6 separate regions of the Homo sapiens genome follow, and all the other regions are reported to be linked to region 1. The links are microRNA targets in miRTarBase. Many come from high-throughput screens and were not tested one by one. Region 1 holds a microRNA gene; each other region holds the end of a gene's coding sequence.

Region 1 (4,000 bases):
ACAAGAACACTCTATTTACATTTGCAAAGTGCCATTAGATCATTAAAATTAAAGTATATTTAGAGTTAGTTACCTATCAAGAGCTTCCTTGAAGTACTTCCTCTGGACATCAAACTGAAAGACAGTGCGTTCACAATCAGTTGAGGCATTATCACTACCCCCATGCTTCTTCAGGAAGGCATCAAATCCATTCTCATCTGGATATTTCAAACTACCCATGAATACCACTAAATGGAAAGAACACAAAGTCACACAACACAAAGATATAGAAAATATTTTTATCACACATGAACTTTCTTATATGCATAGAAAAACTGAAAGAAAATAGACCAACACATCAAATGGTTATGTCTGAATTCTTTTTTTTTTCTTTGAGACAGAGTCTCACTCTGTTGCCCAGGATGGAGCACAGTGGTGCAATCTTGGCTCACTGCAAACTCTGCCTCCTGGGTTCAAGTGATTCTTGAACCTCCTGGGTTCAAGTGTCTCAGCCTCCCAAGTAGCTGGATTACAGGCACTTGCCACCATGCCTGGCTAATTTTTTGTATTTTTAGTAGAGATGGGGTTTCACCAGGTTGCCCAGGCTGGTCTCCAACTCCTGACCTCAAGTGATCTGCCCACCTCGGCCTCCCAAAGTGCTGGGATTACAGGCGTGAGCCACCACACCTGACCCTAAATAATACTTTCTTCATTACATTTGATTTTGTAACTTTCTATTATGCTCATGTTACTTTTATACTAAAAAAAAAAAATTTCATCTTTAAAGAAAGATAAGACGAACATATAACTTATAAAGAGATCACAAATATATTTAAGTCTAAATAGATTAAAATTCACCTTTTATTAATTAGATTAAAATTCAAACAAATTCACAAACATATATGCAGATTAACTGCTACTGCTGTTACAACTTAATCTCTTCAATTAAATTTAAGGAGATTAAAATTTAAGCACAAACATATGCAGATTAATGGCTACTATAAAAATTCACAAAGTAAGAAGTATACCCTCAAATACTTTAGAAAACCAGACCATTAAAAAAAGAGTAATTTAAAATAAATATTTGTAAAATAAAAATAAATATTTGTAACTATATAACATCCACATAGAGTTTTTTTGTTTGTTTGTTTGTTTTTGAGCTGGAGTCTCGCTCCGTCACCCAGGTTGGAGTGCAATGGCGTGATCTCGGCTCACTGCAACCTCCGCCTCTTGGATTCAAGTGATTCTCCTGCCTCAGCCTCCAGAGCAGCTGGAACTCTAGGTGTGCGCCACCATGCCCGGCTAATTTTTGTGTTTTTGTAGAGATGGAGTTTCACCATGTTGGCCAGGCTGGTCTCGAACTCCTGACCTCAGGTGATCCACCTGCCTTGGCTTCCCAAAGTGCTGGGATTACAGGAGTGAGCCACCGCGCCCGGCCCCGTGTAAGTTTTATTTAGGTACATTCCAAATTAAATGAAAAGCTTCTATTGTTTTGTTTTTATATTAATCATGCCTTTTGAATTTCTAGGTTTTTTTTGTTTCTTGTTTTTTTTTTTTTTTTTTTGAGACAGTCTTGCTCTATCACCCAAGCTGGAGTACAGTGGCACAGCCTCAGCTCACTGCAACCTCTACCTCCCAGGTTCAAATGATTCTCTTGCCTCAGATTCCCAAGTAGCTGGGACTACAGGTGTATGCCACCACGCCCAACTAATTTTTGTATTTTTAGTAGAGATGGGGTTTCACCATGTTGGCCAGGCTGGTCTCGAACTCCTGACTTCAAGTGATCCACCCACCTCAGCCTCCCAGAGTGCTGGGATTACAGGCGTGAGCCACCTCACCCAGGGAATTCCTGTATTTCTGATGTTTGGCTGGGGGCCTTGCTAACCCTGGAAGGGACTGCCCTCCCCAGGACTGGTCATTTCCTAGAAAATGGCAATCATCTCCTGATCCGTTGGCCTTAACATAGCTCAACAATAGTGACATCTACAGTTTAAAAGTTTTCTGTGTGGTTTCATTCTAACTCTCAATATAAGTACACTCAGATTGTTTCCCCCACGATATTCATAAATCAAGGATTTTTTCTTAGCCTTTTCTCTTGCTAAATATATCATACTTCTGTCAAATCACTTGCTAATCTTTGATATCAATTCATATAAGTTTGGAGGGGGGAAAAAAACACACCAGGAATGATATTTTACAAATTCTTACTGTGCTCCAAAAAGTGTGCCAGCCCCGGCAGGTCATCTGGATCAGCGAAACTCCCAACTCCAACACAAAGAGCCGCTGCAGACTGGAGTAATTAGAACACATACAAATAGTTGAGTCAACCCTAAAGGAATAATATTCGCATCTTATCTTAAGGATTCATTTGGAGATGGATGTTTTCCAATAGGAGTAACAAAATTCTTTCCCTGAGAATCAGGAGGAGCAGCAAAGTGAAACTCACCAGAACTGTGTCAGTTTCACCCTGCTGCTCCTCCGCTTGCCATCCTGCCAAATGCTGAACAGGTGCAGACCTAAGGAAAAAAAGCAGAAACAGACAGAAAAAAAGGGAAGAGGGACTGGACAGCCCACCCAAATATCATTTCATGTCAGCATTTCATAATTCTGAACCAAGTTTTTTCCCTGAATTACTAGATTTTGGAAATCTGCGGAAGTAACATATCTAGATAGATATCTCTGAAGATCTCTAAGCAATTAAAAGCTTTGTGTTGAGTGACTCAGTTACTAGATGTGAAACCTGTCAACATGTAACTTAGAAAATTTTGTTAAGATAGAATAAGATAACATTTTAGGAAAACATCTAACAAAAATAGTAAGTGATAAAAAAAGATAAAATCGGTAGCTATTAAAAAGTATAACTAAATTTTAAAGAGGCTTTTTAGTTCTTCACTTCTAATTGAAGATATACAGCATATATTACTTATCAGTATATATTCTCCCAATACTTTGGGAAAATCAGAGTTTTTAACAAAATTGATGGCCAAGAGGTACACCAAACTGCACTTAAAATGATTGGGACTTTTTTTTTTTTTTTTTTTTAAGACAGGGGTCTTGCTATGAGGCCCAGGCTGGTCTCAAACTCCTGGACTCAAACAATCCTCCCACCTCAGCCTCTCAAAGTGCTGGGATTATAGGCGTGAGCCACTGCACCCGAACTATTGGGGCATAATTACAGTAAGTTAAAAGACAAAAAAAGGAGAAAAAACGGTCAATTTGAATCCTTGAAGATAGAAAGGCGAATTATTAACTTTCCCAAATTTGTTTTCTTCAAACTTTTGTAAATGTCAATTTTACAGGGCTAACATATTTGGTGAAACAGATTGTTTTAATAAACAGTTACCTCTTAAAAAAGAGCTTTTCAAAAATAGCATGTACCTGGCATAAAGTCTAGCCATGTGTCAGAAAATGAGTGTGTTTTCAGAAGAACCAAACAGCCTCACTTGATACTATAAACCCCATTTTGAAGACTTAGGCACATAAACTCAGTTAAAACATTGGGGAATATCCAGTTCTTCAAACCACAATCTAACCTGTTCTGTGATGTTTTAATAGGTGCCTAACCTGCTTTCAGCTCCAACTACCCCATAAAGATTTCTTGTCTCGACCAGCAGGGTTGAAGACATTTTTGAATAAGTTGACTTAAACCACAGTCTATCAGTCAGCTTTGACCACAGCAAAAACAGGCTCTGCAATTGCTAGAAAAGAAATTCATACTTGAGAATTTTCTACCTAAAAAATTCAGACCTGAGAAATTCATACTTGAGAACTGAATTAAGAAAGCCCTGAACAAATCTTAATTCAATGTATATCATATTCAAATTTCAACCTTGTTAATTTATCAAACTTTTAAAATCAAGAACAACTTCTTTTGGGAGGAGGAAAACGGAGAGGGATAAAAAAGATGCCTCAGAAAAGTAGTTAACTTCTTAATTAGGTAAATGTTATTCAAAAAACGATCAAATATCTTTCTTCTCAATTCCTTTATTAATTCTCACATTTACCTTAAACAAGTTTCACA
Region 2 (4,105 bases), not on the chromosome of region 1:
CCTGCGCCTCACTCCCTGCATCAGGCTCCTTCCCACCCTCAGTGTCCGGCTCCTCACTCCCTGCATCAGGCCCCTTCCCACCCTCACTGTCCTGCGCCTCACTCCCTGCATCAGGCCCCTTCCCACCCTCACTGTCCTGCGCCTCACTCCCTGCATCAGGCTCCTTCCCACCCTCACTGTCCGGCTCCTCACTCCCTGCATCAGGCCCCTTCCCACCCTCACTGTCCTGCGCCTCACTCCCTGCATCAGGCCCCTTCCCACCCTCACTGTCCTGCGCCTCACTCCCTGCATCAGGCCACTTCCCACCCTCACTGTCCTGCGCCTCACTCCCTGCATCAGGCCACTTCCCACCCTCACTGTCCTGCGCCTCACTCCCTGCATCAGGCTCCTTCCCACCCTCACTGTCCTGCGCCTCACTCCCTGCATCAGGCTCCTTCCCACCCTCACTGTCCTGCGCCTCACTCCCTGCATCAGGCCGCCTCCCACCCTGACTGTCCTGCTCCTCACTCCCTGCATCAGGCTCCTTCCCACCCTCACTGTCCTGCGCCTCACTCCCTGCATCAGGCCGCCTCCCACCCTCACTGTCCTGCGCCTCACTCCCTGCATCAGGCTCCTTCCCACCCTCACTGTCCGGCTCCTCACTCCCTGCATCAGGCTCCTTCCCACCCTCACTGTCCGGCTCCTCACTCCCTGCATCAGGCCGCCTCCCACCCTCACTGTCCTGCTCCTCACTCCCTGCATCAGGCTCCTTCCCACCCTCACTGTCCTGCGCCTCACTCCCTGCATCAGGCCCCTTCCCACCCTCACTGTCCTGCGCCTCACTCCCTGCATCAGGCTCCTTCCCACCCTCACTGTCCGGCTCCTCACTCCCTGCATCAGGCTCCTTCCCACCCTCACTGTCCTGCGCCTCACTCCCTGCATCAGGCCACTTCCCACCCTCACTGTCCTGTGCCTCACTCCCTGCATCAGGCTCCTTCCCACCCTCACTGTCCTGCGCCTCACTCCCTGCATCAGGCTCCTTCCCACCCTCACTGTCCTGCGCCTCACTCCCTGCATCAGGCCGCCTCCCACCCTCACTGTCCTGCTCCTCACTCCCTGCATCAGGCTCCTTCCCACCCTCACTGTCCTGCGCCTCACTCCCTGCATCAGGCCGCCTCCCACCCTCACTGTCCTGCGCCTCACTCCCTGCATCAGGCTCCTTCCCACCCTCACTGTCCGGCTCCTCACTCCCTGCATCAGGCCACCTCCCACCCTCACTGTCCTGCTCCTCACTCCCTGCATCAGGCTCCTTCCCACCCTCACTGTCCGGCTCCTCACTCCCTGCATCAGGCTCCTTCCCACCCTCACTGTCCTGCGCCTCACTCCCTGCATCAGGCCCCTTCCCACCCTCACTGTCCTGCGCCTCACTCCCTGCATCAGGCTCCTTCCCACCCTCACTGTCCTGCGCCTCACTCCCTGCATCAGGCCGCCTCCCACCCTCACTGTCCTGCGCCTCACTCCCTGCATCAGGCCACTTCCCACCCTCACTGTCCTGCTCCTCACTCCCTGCATCAGGCTCCTTCCCACCCTCACTGTCCTGCGCCTCACTCCCTGCATCAGGCTCCTTCCCACCCTCACTGTCCTGCGCCTCACTCCCTGCATCAGGCTCCTTCCCACCCTCACTGTCCTGCGCCTCACTCCCTGCATCAGGCCGCTTCCCGCCCTCACACCTGCTCCTCACTCCCTGCATCAGGCCACTTCCCACCCTCACTGTCCTGCTCCTCACTCCCTGCATCAGGCTCCTTCCCACCCTCACTGTCCGGCTCCTCACTCCCTGCATCAGGCTCCTTCCCACCCTCACTGTCCTGCTCCTCACTCCCTGCATCAGGCTCCTTCCCACCCTCACTGTCCTGCGCCTCACTCCCTGCATCAGGCTCCTTCCCACCCTCACTGTCCTGCGCCTCACTCCCTGCATCAGGCCGCCTCCCACCCTCACTGTCCGGCTCCTCACTCCCTGCATCAGGCTCCTTCCCACCCTCACTGTCCTGCGCCTCACTCCCTGCATCAGGCTCCTTCCCACCCTCACTGTCCTGCGCCTCACTCCCTGCATCAGGCTCCTTCCCACCCTCACTGTCCTGCGCCTCACTCCCTGCATCAGGCTCCTTCCCACCCTCACTGTCCTGCGCCTCACTCCCTGCATCAGGCTCCTTCCCACCCTCACTGTCCTGCGCCTCACTCCCTGCATCAGGCTCCTTCCCACCCTCACTGTCCTGCGCCTCACTCCCTGCATCAGGCTCCTTCCCACCCTCACTGTCCTGCGCCTCACTCCCTGCATCAGGCCGCCTCCTACCCTCACTGTCCTGCTCCTCACTCCCTCCATCAGGCCCCTTCCCACCCTCACTGTCCTGGAAACTGCTGGGTCTCGACTTTCCCCACCCTGACACCACCAGCAAGATAAGCCTCAGGCTGGGCGTGGTGGCTCATGCCTGTAATCCCAACACTTTGGGAGGCCGAGGCAGGAGGATCGCTTGAGCCCAGGAGTTGGAGACCAGCTTGGGCAACATAGTCAGACTCCATCTCTATTGAAAAAAAAAAAAAAGACAAGCCTCAGTTCACCCCATGGCTCTTCCAAAGGATTTATTGGTCCTATTTACATCTATTGCAAATTGTGAGAAGGCAGCAGGGGCCAACCCCTGGACCTCATCTCTGTCTAGAATGTGAGGTCGCAGGGATGCTTAAGTCTTCCTCTGGCAGAGACCCGAGGTGCAGAGATGATTCTTCTCACCCCTTCTCTCAGGGTCGTGGAGCCCCAGCAGGGGTTCAGGGCCCAGAGGCTGCCCCCTCAGCTGAAGGCACAAACACTGTGGTAGGGGTGGGCAGACAACGCATGGACTCACTCCTGGCAGGCGCCACTGGCCAAGTGCACCTTTTCCCCCTGCTCCTAGCCTCCTTCTTCCTTCCCGTCCCGGTCCCACACTGGCCAGGGCCTGGATGGGTGGCCACTTAAACCCCAGACCCAAGCCCTTAACTCCTGGACCACGGCCAGCCTTCCTTAGGCTGGAATCCAAGCACCATCAGTGCCCTGGACCAGGCCAGCTTCCCTGTCCTAGAGGGATGGGACAGAGAGTGCCCAGCGGGGGCTGAGGGGCTAGAGACCGGCTGGGCAGGGCCAGTCTCCCTTCCCCTTCCCGAGCTTCCCTGTCCTCATGTGGACCCAGAGGGCAGAGCTGGGGAGAAGTGAAGGTAGCAACGCTTCCTCCTGCTCTTAACTTCCTGCTTGCTAGGAGCCCTGTGTCCCCAAGCCATGAATGAGACCCCTCTGGCAGGCTTGGTGGCTCTGGTGATTCAGGGGCCAGGACTCCCCCACTCCATTTGCAGGCCCTAGTTGGCAGGCCATGTGGGCACCCAGGGCGTGGGACCCAGGGCCTCCCTGGAGGGAGCTGCTGCTCAGGGAACAGGGTGAGTGGACACGCGCCCGCAGATGTCTTCCCACCCTTGCCCGGCCAGCTCCTGCCTCAGTCTATGCCAGGAGGCGGATAACCCCGTTGTCTGAGCCCAGCAGGAGGTGGCGTTTAGTGGGCAGCAAGGCCAGGCTGGTGAGCGTGCCGCGGAAGTTCTCAGAGCTGAGCTTCGTGGTGGCCTGCGAGGGTGGCTCAAGCAGGGAGCAGACGCCAATCTTGTTGGACACGGTGCCAGTGACCACCTCGCTGCCGTACAGGTCAAAGGTGTGGATGGGGTCGGATGCTGACTTGTAGTGATGGGTGGGCTTCTGCTCCAGCTCCTTCCAGACGGTCAAGGAATGGTCAGAGGAGGAGCTGACCAGGACGCTGCCCTCCACCGCCTGTCCCGGGAGAGGAGAGCCTCAGCAGGAGCCTGGGTCCTTCTGCATACCCTTGGGCCCCAAGGCCTTCCCAGTTCCCTCCGCAGTTTCTCTCCAGGGAGACAGGCCGTCCTGGGTGGGTGACAAGCCGCCACCCTCCCACACACACCATATTCACGTTGGTTCATTTTAATACGCTCAGCATCCGTAACCCAGTCGTCACTCTAACTTGAGAACTACGCACAGGCATGGTGCCAGGCGTGCACGTGACGACCTTGACCTTCGTAACAACCCTATGCGGTGGAT
Region 3 (4,105 bases), not on the chromosome of region 1:
GCAGTTGTGCTTGCCTCCCGGGCGCCAGCCTCAGTGTAGTTGGTTCTGTGCTCTTGACCTGTAAGGAGCTAGATGGAACTCATCGAGTCAACTGACTGTCTTCACAGGCAACTGTGTAAAGAATTCACAGAACTTCTCAGCCAAGACCGGACACCCCATGGGACCAGCAGGCTCGCCCCAGTCTTGGAGACGAACATACAGAACTGCTTGTCTCATTTCAGCCTGATTACCCACGGGTTTGGCAGCCAGGCCATCTGTGCCGCGGTGTCTGCCCTGCAGAACTACATCAAAGAAGCCCTGATTGTCATAGACAAATCCTACATGAACCCTGGAGACCAGAGTCCAGCTGATTCTAACAAAACCCTGGAGAAAATGGAGAAACACAGGAAATAAAATTGGAACGAAGAAAGGTTAGGAGAGTAGGGAAGGAACAGGACTGCAAAAATCCTTCTCCACCGCACAGACTGGGAACCCCTCCTGGCCTGGGGGAAGAGTTTGTTACCTACCTTACTATTTAAAGAGCCTTCACTGGTTCTGCATCACCCGCCCCTGGACTTCTTAGTTGTTTCTCTAGCGCTGAGCTATCTCCTAACTTTGGACCTATTATCAGAAGGTGACAAGTACTGGCTCTTTATTCATTAAGCTTTTTTTTTTTGAACCCCATTCTTTCCTTCTCTGAAAGTGGTGCTATAAGTTTTAGAATCTTTTAAATACATTCCCTGGGCCAACAGACCCACACACTTAGCCATTGAAATGTCAAATTGATGTGCCCTAGATCAACAGATCAACAATACCTTTTTTTTCAGTGTTAAGGTAATGGTTGGTTTTTGTGTCCGCTAAATATTTACCTTGAAAAAAAGAAAAGTGTGTATCTAGCTTCTTCAGAGATCAAGTCCTCTGGTAGGAGGCAAAGGTTCTATCTGCTTAGCAACTAGTTAATAAGTGGTATCTGACACACTCTAAACCCCGTGTTCAAACGGGGGCCTTCTGGTTTTAGGAAACTTGTAGAAACGAAGCCTGCTGATTGATTTTTTTCTCCTTTTTTTTTTTTTTTTTTTTTAACTTTGAAAGTTAACTCTTCAAATGGGAGACTCTTTGAAATGACATGTTCCTTTAAGGTACTGAAGCTTTATTTGCATATTTATTTCAGATGTTTCGAGTAAACTTGAAAAGGGTAGGCACGAAGCAATTTGTTGCTGCTTGTCACCCCCAAGTCCCCGTGGAGGTTCTGTATTTTAAGAAACAGTGCGTTGAGTGTACAGATTTTATTTATGCGTAATTTAATGGGGTCTGTAAATACTGGTGCACTTCTTACGACTTTTTTGAGACATGGGATCCAATTTTAATATTAACTTTTAATGGTGATGGGGTAATCTATAACACATCATAAGGTTTTATTCATATATATACAGGGTATTAAGAATTAAGAGGATGCTGGGCTCTGTTCTTGGCTTGGAAGATTCTATTTAATTGAAACTCTCTGTTCAGAAAGCAATAACTTTGTCTCGTTCCTGTTGGGCTGAACCCTAAGGTGAGTGTGCAGTACAGTGTGTGTGGGTGAAATGGAGATTTGGAATTGAACTCTCTGCCTGTAAATGTTCCCCAAATAATTGTTGTGTGTATGATACGTGTATAATAAAAGTATTCTTGTTAGAATCTGAAAGTCTGGCTATAGGTTTTTGTTTTTGCTTTTGTTTTAAAGTCTTTTGGGTGAATGGAATTAGGGCAGAGCTGATTTATGGCTTGACTGTGGCTTGGTTAATGCCCTGAGCAGGCAAGTTTTGTGTGCTGTTGGGGAGGAACCTGAAGTTTCACCTTTTCTCCCTAGCGACACTGTTCAGCTACCCCAGGCCTTATGCTGTCATCAGTGTCTCTCAACTGCAGAGGGATAGAATCATCCTCCCCACCCTGGAGGTGTTGGGAAATGTCTGAGGGACAGTTTATTGACATTAAGAGGGGCCAATGTTTTGGGAACAATGTCTCATGGAAGGTTACTGTATTGAGGACAGGTACACTGGCATACTGTACTCAGCATACTGTATAGTGGTCAAGAATGGAAGTGAAATGATTATGGGTGTTCTTTGGGCAGATGTTTCTCTCTTTTTTTTTTTTTTCTTTTTTTAAGATGAAGTCTCGCTCTTGGCCCCAGGCTGGAGTGCAATGGTGTAATCTCGGCTCACTGCAACCTCCACCTCCCGGGTTCAAGCGATTCTCCTGCCTCAGCCTCCTGAGTAGCTGGGATTACAGGTGCGTACCACCACACCTGGCTAATTTTTGTATTTTAAGTAGAGACAGGGTTTCACCATGTTGGCCAGGCTGGTCTCGAACTCCTGACCTCAGGTGATCTGCTCGACTTGGCCTCCCAAAGTGCTGGGATTACAGGCGTGAGCCACCGCGCCAGGCTGGGCAGGTGTTTCTTAGGAGGACTTGGCATTCAGTCGAATGCAAGCAGTGGACGTGCAGCATGCCAGTGTTTTCCATTCATCTAAGTTCTCTTTGGAAATGAGATCGTGCTCATCCACCCAAGACATCCTCTTCATTTCATCTGCCTGCAGGGGAAACCAGAGATTGAGTCTTTGTGCTACTCCAGGAGCAGAGGAGTCTGGCAGGGGTTATGTACTTGCTGGATGTTTGTGATGCACACGGCAGGTACTTGATCTCGAGTTGAAGCAGCCTGGCATCTCCTCCAGGAAGTGATGTGTTTAGAGTTTGCCATGTGTGGCCTGGCTTCAAAGGGAACTGGGAGCCGTAGGATTTTCCCCATTGGATAAGACCATTGCTTCAATGCCAGTTTTATAATCTTTAATTCATAATTCTCTACCAAATGCCCAACGATTCCTGACTTAATGTTGGCGTTGGATGTTATTAAGTAACTTAAACTCTGCCAACCCAGTGCTTTGCTCTTGGCATCTTGTCCTTGGCCACCAAGCATTCCCATTAAGTTGGATTTATCTGGTTGATATGACAAGATCACAATTGCTTTGCTTTGGAGTGGTGAAAAGAGATCTTAGGTTGGCAGTTATCTCTCAATCAAGGCTTGAAATGTTGAGTGTTAAGAGGAAGTTATGGGGGCAAAGGGCTGAAAGAAAAAGGGCTATTCTGTTATCAGCATCTTAACTTGCTTTTGGACCAGAGTCTGGCTTTTAGGAGCTGTGCTGAATTGCAACGCAGTCAGTGTTCTGGAAACGCCCCAAAGTCAACCAAGGATTGAAGGGAATCACAAGCAGTGCTTCTTTTTTATTTTTTTTTTGAGATGGAGTCTCACTCTGTTGCCCAGGCTGGAGTACAGTGGCTCGATCTCGGCTCACTGCAAGCTCCGCCTCCCGGGTTCATGCCATTCTCCTGCCTCAGCCTCTTGAGTAGCTGGGACTGCAGGCACCCGCCACCACACCCGGCTAATTTTTTTTGTATTTTTAGTGGAGACAGGGTTTCACCCTGTTAGCCAGGATGGTCTTGATCTCCTGACCTCATGATCCACCTGCCTCAGCCTCCCAAAGTGCTGGGATTACAGGCGTGAGCCACCACGCCCGCCCAAGCAGTGCTTCTTACTTGCCGGGTTCTTTCTCCACATCCCCACTGGAAGTCTGGGGACTGCCACTGAGCTCTTGAGTCTGATGCACGATAATGAGTTTTTCTTCCCAACACCTGAGCTGATGCTGTAGCCAAAAACCAGGTCCCCTCAAGAGGATCCTACTGAAACATTAGCTCCCTTGCAGATTTTTTTTTTTTTTTTTTTTTGAGATGGAGTCTCGCTCTGTTGCCCAGGCTGGAGTGCAATGGCATGATCTCAGCTCACTACAAGCTCCGCCTCCTCGGTTCACACCATTCTCCTGCCTCAGCCTCCCGACTAGCTGGGACTACAGTCGCCCGCCACCACGCCCAGCTGATTTTTTTGTATTTTTTAGTAGAGGCGGGGTTTCACCATGTTAGCCAGGATGGTCTCGACCTCCTGACCTCGTGATCCACCTGCCTCGGCCTCCCAAAGTACTGGGATTCCGGGCGTGAGCCACCGCGCCCAGCCCTCCCTTGCAGATTTTTCTGGAAACTCTTGCTTACTTGTGAAATAAGGGTGCAGTGCCCTTTGGCATTAGGTTGGTGGACCCTC
Region 4 (4,105 bases), not on the chromosome of region 1:
GCGGAGGCAACCCCTCTTGGTGCCAACAGTCCCCACTTCTCAAGGGCACATCTGTCTGGGGGTAGGCTGGGCCCTTGGCGCTCATGGAAAGCACATCTCTCCTCTAGCGGGTTCCTGCTCTTTGTACTACCAGGGAGCGCCCCGGCAGATCCATCCTCTTCTGGTGGCCTGTACTGCACCAACAAATGATGAGCTGCCACTCCCAAGAGCTCCATCTGTCACTCACTCTCCTTCACTCTCCTAACAGTCTCACCAAGGGGCAATGCTATCCTTCCAGTAACGGCATCCGGGACACAAAATTCCCCTCCCAGAGGAATGGATTAACTCCAATATTATCTAACACAGAGATCTTGTACCCTTTAAACCACATCCAGCAACTCCATGAATTTGTGTGGAGGCCAACAATAGCCTAAGAAATACATCACGATCTTGCTAATGCTTCTGCGCTAGTAACTTTACGAACCTGTAACCTATGATTTCTGGCTAAGATTACAAATTGCCCTTAATCCAGCGTGCCTATGGAACCTAAGAACTTGTACTGTATGGGGCAAAAAGATCCCTGGGTTACCATAAATGATATCTTCCACAGTATAAGCTGAGGCTACAGTTCATTCTTTTGGAAATCACATTTAAGGGATGGCCGAAAAAATATGTGTAAAATATGCAAAAAACAAAATCAATAACCTTGAACCCTGGTGTCTAAGCTCCCAATCTCAGCCACCCCAGAGGCTGCCCAAAGAGCCTGGCCAAGACAAAACGAGGCTGACCAAAAACCCTCGCCATGTCAATCTGACATTCAAGGGTAGACTGAAGGTGGCCCAGTGTAGTGGCCAAGAACACTGAGCCACTGGCCTTAGGAGTGTGGGGGATGCAGGGCGCCCCGAGCAGGAGCAGTGAGGGGAGGAGTGGGACAAGCAGTGTGCCTCCACCAAGGGACTCGCCTAGAAAATGGGATGTCAGTAAAGGAGCTGTGCAGGGACGGGGAAGACTGGGGCTGGTGACAAGGTGACAGACTCCATCTTTATGTACATTTAAATTACGCAAATACTATGTCATGTCATACACAGGACTTTATAATTTATCCTACCACAGATTGAGCATCCCAAATCCCAAATCTGAGATACTCCAAAATCTGGAACCCAAGACAAAGAAAATGCTCACGGGAGGATTCCAGATTTGGAATGCTCAACCAGAAATAAATCTAAATTATCCTAAGTTGCAGAAATGATGTAATAGGTATTTTCAACCACGAGAATGTAGTATTCATCTGTCCTAAATAAAACCAATATCCTGGGTGAAGACTGCTAGAGGGAATAGAGTCCGCATAGAACACTCTCTCAAGACCGGTGTCATGACCCAGTGCCTTGCTGGAGGGGAGTAGGCCATGCACCTGACTCTGGGAAGAGCTGCCTCCCCCGTGCCTTGAGGGCACAGCCCCCTCTGGGAAGGAAGGCAGCATGTGGCCCACCCCTGCCAGGCTTTGGTGCTCACACAGCACACTGGAGCTTCTGCAAGTGACTGACAGGAGTTTTAGAAGTGAATTTTACATATGAGAGACACCAATTGTTTTTAGCTTGTGACACATGCCGAAAAAAAAAAAACTACACCTAAACTCCCAAACTGAAGCGTCCTTTATCTCATGTCACAAATTTTAATGATGGTTGAGTCATTAATCAATGCTAAGATTATCAAGGGAGGAGGAGTTGGCATTTTAAAAGGTACCAACTAATAGGAAAAAAATCTCATCTCTCATGGGACCATTTAAAAGGTGGGGTTTGAACAGATAACACTCGACCTGAGAAAGGCAACAAAGACATGCCGCTGAAACACACTCGACCATAGCTGCGCTGGCGAAGAAGCCCCAAGTGCCCAGAGCCCTATGGCTGAAGAGGCAGCAGCCTCAGTGGGACACTCCTCGGGGGTTGCTGCTGTTGCACCCTGCCCTTCTCTTCCAGGGAGGCATACTGAAATACGGATAGGTGGCACGCATCGAGGATTCTCTTCAAAAGAGCTGGTGGCATGGGAGGGGTGGCGTGGGAGAGTGGGTGAGGGTACAGGTGGAATAAGAGTGGCTAAGTTCTTCAGACATGCGGGGACAACAGGAATTAATGGCAGCTAGACATAATTTTAAACATACAGCCATATTCTGAAACCTGGCCCTGGAAAACAAAATCGTTCCAAGAGCTGCATCCGCCCTATGTACCATCAGTTTCCCATGAAAGCAGCCTACATGAGGAAGACAGGGAGGCGGTGGCGCTAAGACCTCAAGGACGTCTGGTCTATGGGCTGCCAGGATCATGCTGATGTTCTGTGACGAGACCCTTAAAAACGGAGTGCCTACTTATCCTGGCATGCAGAGGCCCTGCTATGGTTGTGGGGTTCCTCATGGCACCTCTTGTCCCCACCTCTCTGCTTTCTCCCACTACATCCCGAGTGCCACGAGTGAACAGGTCTCGTCACGGGCAAGAGCCTCTGTCTACTTACGGCCTCCTGTCAGCATTCCAGGACAGGGCAGAGCTACAGGGACTGAAGAAAGTGGAGTGGGAAACAGCTTCCAGGCTTACTGACACTCACTTTCATCTACAACTGGTTCTTGCTTCATTCAACTAGCACCAACCTCACAACAGTACTTTTTACTGCTGACACCAAAACAGATGCCAGTTCATGTTTCAGATAAAAAATGCTGGCACAGTAAAAGCTGTTACCCCTCTGTGTACCTATTGGTCTGCACAAAACATGAATTCAAAAAGTATAGATATTCAACAGACACGTGTTGGTAATGACAGTGGGCCAATTTCAACTGCCAGTGTGTGTTCTGAGCACAGCTGGGACAGCCCAGTGTGTTATGCTCTCTGCAAGGACTGCTTGCTTATGGTGGCCCGTGTGTGCCACCGTGCAGACTGCTGACCATCCAGGGCCCTCTTACTGGAAAGCAGTACCATCAGCAATGAAAATTACACCCAAGTTACATCTTTGCTACTTGGTTAGCAAGAAACACTGGGCTCAGAAAGCAGGGACCAAATCTAGGTTTGGTTCGTTGATTTTAAAAGTACATGTAACAGACACCTATGTCAAACCTGTGACACAGTGAGTGTACCTGGACAGCAACTCCCTCTTTATTCAAAGTCAAAACAATGCATTGTATAAAGTATAGATCAGAAGTTTGGAAGTTAGGTATGAATGGAATTCCACCTTACCTAGAAACGTATGAATGATTAACAGACAAAAATTACACCTAAATGGGGAAAAAAATTGAAAGGAACTGTCAGCATGAAAGAAAATGAAATGCACAAAATTATACAGGAGGAAACGGCCACAATTTCTCATGATACAAAAGGGCTGCAAGATACTGAACTCGGGGTGAACAACTTCAACACTAGATCATACTTTCAAAATGGGCAGAAGCATGATTTTCACTTCTATCAGACTGCTCCCAATACTAAAACCTCCCTTCCTTCCTTGTTTTCTTTTGCTTGCACAGACTCTAACACTGCCCATCTCTCTGGAAGGTGCATGTGACAGGGACAGCAGGCTTGGCCTTATCCTGGCCACACATGCCGGGCCGTCTCTGAACTTCATTCACACCATTAGCCGGAACATGTTTTTAGTCCCTTCTCCCCCAACCAACATAACCGTTTATCAAAGGTTTCATGGGGTGTTAGCATGTGTAATCCACCACATCATGTTCTCTGTAATGGCTGGTGAGAATGCTCTTTTAGAAACCTGGGACGTGAAAGGAGACTCAAGGTTCTCCAAGGTGACAGAGAAAGCAGAACAAACAACAGAGGGGAGGAAAAGAGAAGCTGAGGCACAGAATACAGGGAGGGGGAGATACAAGTGCAACAAGGACAGAGGCAGCTGTGCGCGGAGTCTGAGGAGGTGGCCCTGCCAATTGACCCCAGTCCTTGCTTTACAACTGCAACCTTAAAAGTGTCCATTCAGCGCCCACAAGGCGGAAACACAGCCCAATAAACACACGTGGCCCTTGGGTCCATCAGACACCCCGCACAGCAGTGATGGGCAGCATTTATTCACCCAACGTTGTTCACTGGCTGACTGACAGCCCTCACCTTCCCTGTCCGCACACTGTGATGCACGCAAGGCA
Region 5 (4,105 bases), not on the chromosome of region 1:
ACTCCAATTAGGATTCCAATCTGGAGATCCTGACATTAGGGACCAGCCCCTGATCACAGGGTAGGTAAATCTTGCAGATCAGGCCAAAAAGGCCCCTAGAATTGTCGGGTCTTGGATCACTGCTGCCTCCTGAGGCAGGTTAGGGTAGGGTGGGTCTAGCTAGCAGGCTCATCTGTCGTCTGGCCTCGCTGACCACTCTTGTTTCCCCCACAGTCTCACTACCGGCCATTCTACGTCAACAAAGGCAACGGGATTGGGTCCAACGAAGCCCCATGAGCTCCTGGCGGAAGGAACGAGGCGCCACACCCCTGCTCTTCCTCCTGACCCTGCTGCTCTTGCCTTCTAAGCTACTGTGCTTGTCTGGGTGGGAGGGAGCCTGGTCCTGCACCTGCCCTCTGCAGCCCTCTGCCAGCCTCTTGGGGGCAGTTCCGGCCTCTCCGACTTCCCCACTGGCCACACTCCATTCAGACTCCTTTCCTGCCTTGTGACCTCAGATGGTCACCATCATTCCTGTGCTCAGAGGCCAACCCATCACAGGGGTGAGATAGGTTGGGGCCTGCCCTAACCCGCCAGCCTCCTCCTCTCGGGCTGGATCTGGGGGCTAGCAGTGAGTACCCGCATGGTATCAGCCTGCCTCTCCCGCCCACGCCCTGCTGTCTCCAGGCCTATAGACGTTTCTCTCCAAGGCCCTATCCCCCAATGTTGTCAGCAGATGCCTGGACAGCACAGCCACCCATCTCCCATTCACATGGCCCACCTCCTGCTTCCCAGAGGACTGGCCCTACGTGCTCTCTCTCGTCCTACCTATCAATGCCCAGCATGGCAGAACCTGCAGCCCTTGGCCACTGCAGATGGAAACCTCTCAGTGTCTTGACATCACCCTACCCAGGCGGTGGGTCTCCACCACAGCCACTTTGAGTCTGTGGTCCCTGGAGGGTGGCTTCTCCTGACTGGCAGGATGACCTTAGCCAAGATATTCCTCTGTTCCCTCTGCTGAGATAAAGAATTCCCTTAACATGATATAATCCACCCATGCAAATAGCTACTGGCCCAGCTACCATTTACCATTTGCCTACAGAATTTCATTCAGTCTACACTTTGGCATTCTCTCTGGCGATGGAGTGTGGCTGGGCTGACCGCAAAAGGTGCCTTACACACTGCCCCCACCCTCAGCCGTTGCCCCATCAGAGGCTGCCTCCTCCTTCTGATTACCCCCCATGTTGCATATCAGGGTGCTCAAGGATTGGAGAGGAGACAAAACCAGGAGCAGCACAGTGGGGACATCTCCCGTCTCAACAGCCCCAGGCCTATGGGGGCTCTGGAAGGATGGGCCAGCTTGCAGGGGTTGGGGAGGGAGACATCCAGCTTGGGCTTTCCCCTTTGGAATAAACCATTGGTCTGTCACTTCTCTTGTATTGAATGACCATTTCCCTGAGGGTCCCCAGAGGAACAGGCTGCAGTTCTTCTGAATGCACTTTTTCCCTCTGATGAAGGCACGGTCATCTTCCTGCTCTCCTCTCAGAAACGTGGCTCCTTTGAAACTCCCTTGACCTCCCTCACCCTGTCTGGGACACAGGGGGTGCAGTGCAGGAACCTGGGCCTCAGGGAGGCACGCCTTGGCTAACAATGAACACAGGGAGAATGACAGTGGGGTGTGGGCCTGGGGATATGCTCAATACCTTCTGCCATGCTCAGACCTTCTGGCCGGCCCACCCTAGAGTTCCCAGGGGGAGAAGGGCCCAGAAGTGGCTGGGAGCCAAGCACTCTGGTGCTCAGACGCAGGCTGGAGTGGAAGTCCACTGGAGGCTTCAGACCTGAGGGCCTTCTCAGTGCACAGAGGGCCTTCTGGGAAGGAGAGCTCCCCTTTGAGGCTGGCAGGAGGGTCAGGCTCCTGAAGACAGCATCATCCTGGGCTTGGGGGACGGAGGAAAGGGAAAAGGCCTTCCAGTCCCTGGAAACTCAGAGAAGCCTGGAAGGAGAGTCAGGGAAGTCTTCCTGGAAGAGGTGAGCAAGCCAGGAGGAGGCATGATGGTAGAGAGGGAAGAGGGTGTCAAACAACCACATTCTTTTTCCTGGTGTGGCAGGGACACCCGGGCCCCTCTGTTCTCACTGTTCTTCCTCACTCTGCTCCCCACCAGGGGCCTGATGACATCAGGGGAGCAGTCCCTCTGTCCTAGTAAAAGTCCCTAAGCAAGCTGGCTGCTGGTCCATCGTGGAGGGACAACACTCTTCCTTCCTCCTCTCCACGCTGCTGGGCCAGGGAGCTTTAGGAGCCAAGCAGCCAGGCTTGCCACGAAGGGGCTCTTGGGATTGAGAAAGTGAGGGAGAAATGGCAGAGAAGAGAGAGAAGGGGGAGACAGGAGGGTAAGGGTGAGAAAGGAAAGGAAGGAGAAGGGGCCAAGTGTGTCCATGGAGGACCTTCCAGCACTGTCAAGAAGAGAGACCACAAGTTGGACCCACATGCTTTGGCCACCTGGGTGGTGTTCTCCCTTGGGAGCTGGGACTGCAGAGTGTCCCTGGGGTTAGTTGCTGCTCCCTACAGCCCCCTGCCCTGGGTGCTGGTTCCCTACGTGGTGCCCCAGCAGGTCCACCTCTGTGGGCACCGTGCCCTGCAGCCTCCTGGCCCTTCTTGAGGACCCTGGGGTTGTGATGGTGATAAGGACCCATTCCTGGGCTCCAGAGATGCCCGGACTCTCAGAAAGACCCTGGCCACGAGAGGCTCCCAGTTCTCCAGGCCCTGCCCTAAGCCTACCAGCTCCAGAGAAGGGGAACTGGATGGGACACCAGGTCTGGCTAAATTCCCCTGTGGGGGCAGCCAGGCCCTTGCCTGTCCCATGCCTGGGCTGCACCAGGGGCTGCACCTGCTGCACAGAGGCTGGCTGGTGGGATGTTGGGAAGACCGCTGTGTCAGGAGGCCCAGGGCTGTGCTGGGAACTGGGCGGGGACGTCGCTGAGCATCACACTCTCCCCATCAATCCCCACCAGGTCCATTATCGTCTGAGCTGTGATTATAAAGCAATCAGGGAAATCCTTTCTTCCCAGTTCTTGAGAATGCCTCTGTCCCCAGCATGAGTGAGAATAGGAGGTTTAATCCTCCTATTAGGGAGGAAGGAGGGGGGCAAGGCTCTATATCCACTTCTGTTCCTCTCAGACCCAGACAGTCCTGGCCCATGCTCCCTTGTCTCCTGCCCTCTCCCAGCTCTGGGCGTTGGGTGATTCTCAGAGGTGTGGGTAGCCCCCTGGCAGACCAGCGAGGAGGGAGGCAGCAGAGGGGCTCAGCAGGGAGCTCTGGCAGGGTAGTTGGGAGCCCTGAGTCTCATCCAGGCTCTGTTGCTTGGCTGTGTGATCTGGGCTAATTGCTTGCCCTTTCTGGGTCTGACCTTCTCCATCTACAAAATGAGGTGTATTCATTGGATCATTTCTGGGGTTCTTTCCCAGCTCCAACAGCCTGTGAGGTGGAGACCACAGCAAAAGGAGGGTTGGAAGGGACAGGAACATTGAGCTTGGTGTCAGGTTGGGAATCCACCATCAGACCTGGGCTGATAGGCAGGCAGGTTGGACTCCCAAATCTCCAAGGCTCCCTGTACCCAGCCCCGTGCCTCTCCTTTCCTTTAGACCCTGTCAGGGGCATGGGTCCCCATCTGAGAAGCCTTCTCTGTCCAGGACGGGGGAAGGCTGGAGACGCAGGAGCTTCTGAGCTCTGCTCTGGGCCTCAGGACCTGCTGGAATGTGGACTCCGTGATAGCAGGGGTTATTCCATCATGTTGTCCTAGAACAGTGCCTGGCACGTGGGCGGGCCTTGGAGGCTAAGAAGCAGTTAACTGGGAAGAGGAAGTGGGAGAGGAAGGTGAAAAAATCAAAAGGGGAGCTGGAAGGCATCCAATAATGGGTGCCTGGTACATTTCATTGTGTGGAGAGCTGAGGCATAGGCTTCTGAGGGCACTGTGTGGAGCTGGAGCCACACTGTCAGGGCCAGAATCCTGGCTGCACTGCCCATCAGCTGTAAGACCAGGGCCAAGCTGCCCACTCTGTCTGAGCTTCAGTGGGGATAACATCTTAAAGGACTGCTGTGAGCAACAAAAAACTGCAAAGAACCTGGTTTAGC
Region 6 (4,105 bases), not on the chromosome of region 1:
AGTGCCTCACACTTGTAGTCTCAGCTGCTGGGGAAGCTGGGACAGGAGGATTGCTTGAGACTAAGAGTTCAAGGCTGCAGTGAGCTATGATTGGACCACTGCACTCTAGCCTGCGTGACAGAGTGAGACCACATCTTTTTTTTAAAGAAAAGAAAAAGGTATTGGCCATGCTCGGTGGCCCATGCCTGTAATCCCAGCACTTTGGGAGGCAGAGGCAGGCAGATCACCTAAGGTCAGGAGTTCAAGACGAGCCTGGCCAACATGGTGAACCCCGTCTCTACTAAAAATACAAAAATTAGCCAGGTGAGGTGGCAGGTGCCTGTAATCCCAGCTACTCAGGAGGCTGAGGCAGGAGAATCACTTGAACTCGGGAGTTGGAGGTTGCAGTGAGCTGAGATCATGCCATTACACTCTAGCCTGGGCAACAGGGTGAGACTCCATCTCAAAAAAAAGAAAAGAAAAGAAAAAAAAAAAGACAAATACGTATCTACTGAGGCCCTACTGTGTTCACTGGGTTAGGCGCTGGGGCTCCTGTGGGGAAGGAAACAGGCAGTTGTCTTTGCCTGCATGGAGTAAAGTCTAGCAGTGGGTTCCAGCATGGCAAACCACCTTTCCTGTTCTTTTCCTTCTCAGGGTCCCCTCCTAACCGCAAGCGTCCTGCTAACGAGAAGGCAACTGATGACTATCATTATGAGAAGTTCAAGAAAATGAATAGGCGGTACTGAGTTGTGCAGAGTGGGATGTAAATATCGCCTTCCTCTCCCTATATCCCTCCCATGAAAAATGGCTTCCTGGCCGGGCGTGGTGGCTCCTGCCTGTAATCCCAGCACTTTGGGAGGCCGAGGTGGGCGGATCACCTGAGGTCGGGAGTTTGAGACCAGCCTGACCAACATGGAGAAACCCAGTCTCTACTGAAAATACAGAAAAGTTAGCCAGGCGTGGTGGCACATGCCTGTAATCCCAGCTGCTCAGGAGGCTGAGGCAGGAGAATTGCTTGAACCCAAGAGGCGGAGGTTGTGGTGAGCCGAGATTGCACCTTTGTACTCCAGCCTGGGCAACGAGCAAAAAACTCTGTCTCAAAAAAAAAAAAAAAAAAAAAAAAGAAAAAGAAAAATGGCTTCCAGGACAGAGCATGCTCATTTGCTGGCGGACAGTTCCAGAAACAGACCCTGTTAGTCCTTCTACTTACCTGCTGGATTTTTCAAGCACTAAATTTATAACTTTTTGAAACAAAATAATGTGTAATTTTCCATTTGGGGGCAAACTCTATTCTTGTGAGCATTATTAAATCTTGTTTGTAAATATATTGTCTTTCTCTTAATATTTGCTCTGGGTCAGGAAGAAGCTGTTCACGGTGTGATAATACTCTTTAGATTGTGCTTTCATTATTATAGATGCATCATGTCTTCTGCTTTCACGTGTCTGGGATGGGGTCAGAAATGCATCCTCCAGCTGACAGAAAAATCCAGGATGAGATCAGAAGGATACTGGTGTTTTCTGACTTTTACAAAATTACTTGTTTGTTTTCATTAAAAAAAAAGCATAAACTATGTTTCTTATTACTATTAGAATTATTAAATTTCAAAATGAATCCAACCTTATTGTTTGTATTATGTTTCTTATACCAGCATCAGGTAATGTTTTTAAAGCCCATGGTTTGGGTAGCCTAAATGTAAAACTGAATTACTGAGATGGATTTTCTCATTTATTTCAAACAGTGAGCTATGATTGGACCACTGCAGCATAGACATGCTGCAACCTGCTGTCAAGTACCTTCTTACCTGTGCCCTCATTTTTCCTGAGGCATCCACAGGGGTCCAAAAGAGGAAAGAGCAGATTGGCTGACTTCTGGGTGGATTTAGAGCAGGTATTGTGGTTACAGTGGTTTGGCCCAGGAGTCAGATCTGAGCCCACCTCGCAGCTTACTACTTGTGTCCTTGGACAGATCCTTTTCACTCTTAGCCTCAGTTTTCTCATCTGTAAAATGGAGATTTTTTTTTTTCCTCCACTTGAATATGGTCAGTGAAGGCAGGAACCATGTGTGCCTAATTTTTAAATTTGAATCCCCAGGGCATAGCCCATAATCTGACAGATAGGCAGTCCTCAAAACTATGAATGATCCCTATAGTGTTTGGCTTGTAACAGGTGCACAAAAGTATTTTAAATCCAATACGAAAAAGTCGAAACTTAAAAAATATTTTCAGGATATTTCAACAAACATTTACAGGTCCCAGCGATGTGCAGGGGTAACCCAAGATGAATACTAAAGGCCTAGCACATCTGGCACACAGCAACGCAACACGTGTTTATGGGATGAACAGGCAAATAAGTGGATGGTCAACAGTTCTCACTTGCCAGAGTTCCCTTTGCTAGAAAATGAGTAATCTTTTATCCAGCTTAAAAGTGGCTGCCAGATGGAGGGAGCTGGTTCTCTCACTGTTGGGGTGGGAATTCACAGATAAACAAGGGGAGGAGGCTCCAATGATCTGTGTAATGGATTAGAGTTGGAGATGTCAGCACGAGCTCATGTTTAGCTTAATATAGGTACAGATGTTTACCTATAAAAATATTTATAGATATGTGTGTGTTTAACAGTATATACACACATTTTTTTCTGTCAGCTGAGACTGAAAGAAATGACATCTCAATAGCAAGAAGCACACCTAGCACCCAGACCTTGGTTTCTCTTTTTTTTTTTTTTTTTTTTTTTTGATACGAAGTCTCGCTCTGTCACCCAGGCTGGAGTGCAGTGGTGCGATCTCGGCTCACTGCAACCTCCACCTCCCAAGTTCAAGGAATTCTCCTGTTTCAGCCTCCCATGTAGCTGAGACTACAGGCACACGCAACCATGCCTAGCTAATTTTTTTGTATTTTCAGTAGAGATGGGGTTTCACCATATTGGTCAGGCTGGTCCCAAACTCCTGACCTCAGGTGATGCACCTGCCTCAGCCTCCCAAAATGCTGGATTACAGGCATGAGCCACCATGCCCAGCCAGTTTCTAATGCCATTTTACAATGAAAGGAATCAGGGTTCCTCGTAGAAAATAGGATTCTAGGACTGGGGCAGGAAATACAAGATGAGCCCGGAGTATCCTGTAGTGTCAGAAAGGAAAGAGGCACTCAAACCCAAATAAGCTGGTATATACACTGGGTGTATGTCAAAGGAGCACAAGGAACCACTCAAATTCCCAGTGGCCAAAATGAGAACAATTTGAAAAAAAAATTAGTACTGTAGTATAACAAAGGATAAAATAACAATGGTCCACACTGATATAAATGATTGAATACATGGGGGAGAAGAAACAAATCTCCCATGCAGAATTCCAAATAATTTCTGTAGATACTCTGCCCCCAAGGAGGTGGAGCAAAATCCCCGACTCCTTACGTGTGGGCTGTGCATGGGGACGTCCTTCCAAAGAGTACAGTAGAGAAAAGAGGGGTGGGGGGACCTGACAAACACTACTTCAGTCAAGTGATCAAGTCAGCACCAACAGTGGTAAGTAACGTTGAACAGTAAGAACCCTTCCTTGGTAGGATGTGATGAGCATAGCACTTTACCTCTGTGATCTTCCTTCCAAAACGCCATAACGCTTGTCTAATCCTGAGAAAAACATCAAATCCCAATAGAGGGCCAGCCCACCAAAGATTTGGCCAGTACTCCTCAAAACTATCAAGGTCATCAAAAATAAAAAGCTGAGGCCAGGCGCGGTGGCTCACGCCTGTAATCCCAGCACTTTGGGAGGCTGAGACGGGCAGATCATGAGGTCAGATCAAGACCATCCTGGCCAACATGGTGAAACCCCGTCTCTACCAAAAATACAAAAATTAGCCGGGCATGGTGGTGTGTGCCTGTAATCCCAGCTGCTCAGGAGGCTGAGACAGGAGAATCGCTTGAACCTGGGAGGCAGAGGTTGCAGTGAGCTGAGATCATGCCACTGCACTCCAGCTAAAATAAAAATAAAAGGCTGAGACACTGTCATTAACAGTAGTCTAAGACATGACAACGAAATATAATGTGGTATCCTGAATGGAAACCTGCAGCAGAAAAAGGCATTAAGTAAAAGGAAGGAAATCTGAATAAACTACACTTTAGTTAATATGACAA

What was found. Region 1 holds the annotated microRNA hsa-miR-761 (GCAGCAGGGUGAAACUGACACA, at 2,432-2,453, opposite strand). A microRNA usually pairs through its seed, bases 2 to 8, with sites in the 3' UTR of a target mRNA and lowers its output. Matches are read on the target gene's strand: a 7mer-m8 pairs with bases 2 to 8, a 7mer-A1 pairs with bases 2 to 7 and ends in A, and an 8mer does both.
Region 2: the mRNA of WDR81 is a reported target of hsa-miR-761. Seed matches in the 3' UTR shown: 7mer-m8 at 2,790-2,796 and 7mer-m8 at 2,657-2,663.
Region 3: the mRNA of TFAP2C is a reported target of hsa-miR-761. Seed matches in the 3' UTR shown: 8mer at 1,017-1,024.
Region 4: miRTarBase lists NAP1L4 as a target of hsa-miR-761. The part of its 3' UTR that is shown has no 7-base or 8-base seed match.
Region 5: miRTarBase lists TRIM29 as a target of hsa-miR-761. Seed matches in the 3' UTR shown: 7mer-m8 at 326-332, 7mer-m8 at 650-656 and 7mer-A1 at 991-997.
Region 6: miRTarBase lists C9orf78 as a target of hsa-miR-761. Seed matches in the 3' UTR shown: 7mer-m8 at 1,189-1,195.

The regions. Positions count from the first base shown.
Region 1 is chr1:51,833,944-51,837,943 of GRCh38, forward strand. MIR761 (microRNA 761) reads right to left here and starts at 2,459; the gene lies at 2,401-2,459. It overlaps NRDC (nardilysin convertase), which reads right to left. Exons shown (of 31, transcript NM_001101662.2): 3 at 2,188-2,269; 4 at 74-227.
Region 2 is chr17:1,737,080-1,741,184 of GRCh38, reverse strand. It overlaps WDR81 (WD repeat domain 81), which reads right to left. Exons shown (of 10, transcript NM_001163809.2): 10 at 2,600-3,820. The coding sequence ends at 3,500. Among named protein-coding and RNA genes, the nearest start is that of SERPINF2, 3.7 kb to the left of the region's middle.
Region 3 is chr20:56,637,621-56,641,725 of GRCh38, forward strand. TFAP2C (transcription factor AP-2 gamma) reads left to right here. Exons shown (of 7, transcript NM_003222.4): 7 at 108-1,663. The coding sequence ends at 393. Among named protein-coding and RNA genes, the nearest start is that of TFAP2C, 10 kb to the left of the region's middle.
Region 4 is chr11:2,946,030-2,950,134 of GRCh38, forward strand. It overlaps NAP1L4 (nucleosome assembly protein 1 like 4), which reads right to left. Exons shown (of 16, transcript NM_005969.4): 15 at 3,198-3,235. The coding sequence ends at 3,230. Among named protein-coding and RNA genes, the nearest start is that of SNORA54, 16 kb to the right of the region's middle. RefSeq lists enhancers at 1-373, 374-987, 988-1,603, 1,604-2,217.
Region 5 is chr11:120,108,585-120,112,689 of GRCh38, reverse strand. TRIM29 (tripartite motif containing 29) reads left to right here. Exons shown (of 9, transcript NM_012101.4): 9 at 214-1,404. The coding sequence ends at 276. Among named protein-coding and RNA genes, the nearest start is that of TRIM29, 27 kb to the left of the region's middle.
Region 6 is chr9:129,824,781-129,828,885 of GRCh38, reverse strand. It overlaps C9orf78 (chromosome 9 open reading frame 78), which reads left to right. Exons shown (of 9, transcript NM_016520.3): 9 at 634-1,596. The coding sequence ends at 725. Among named protein-coding and RNA genes, the nearest start is that of TOR1A, 2.7 kb to the right of the region's middle. RefSeq lists a silencer at 542-836.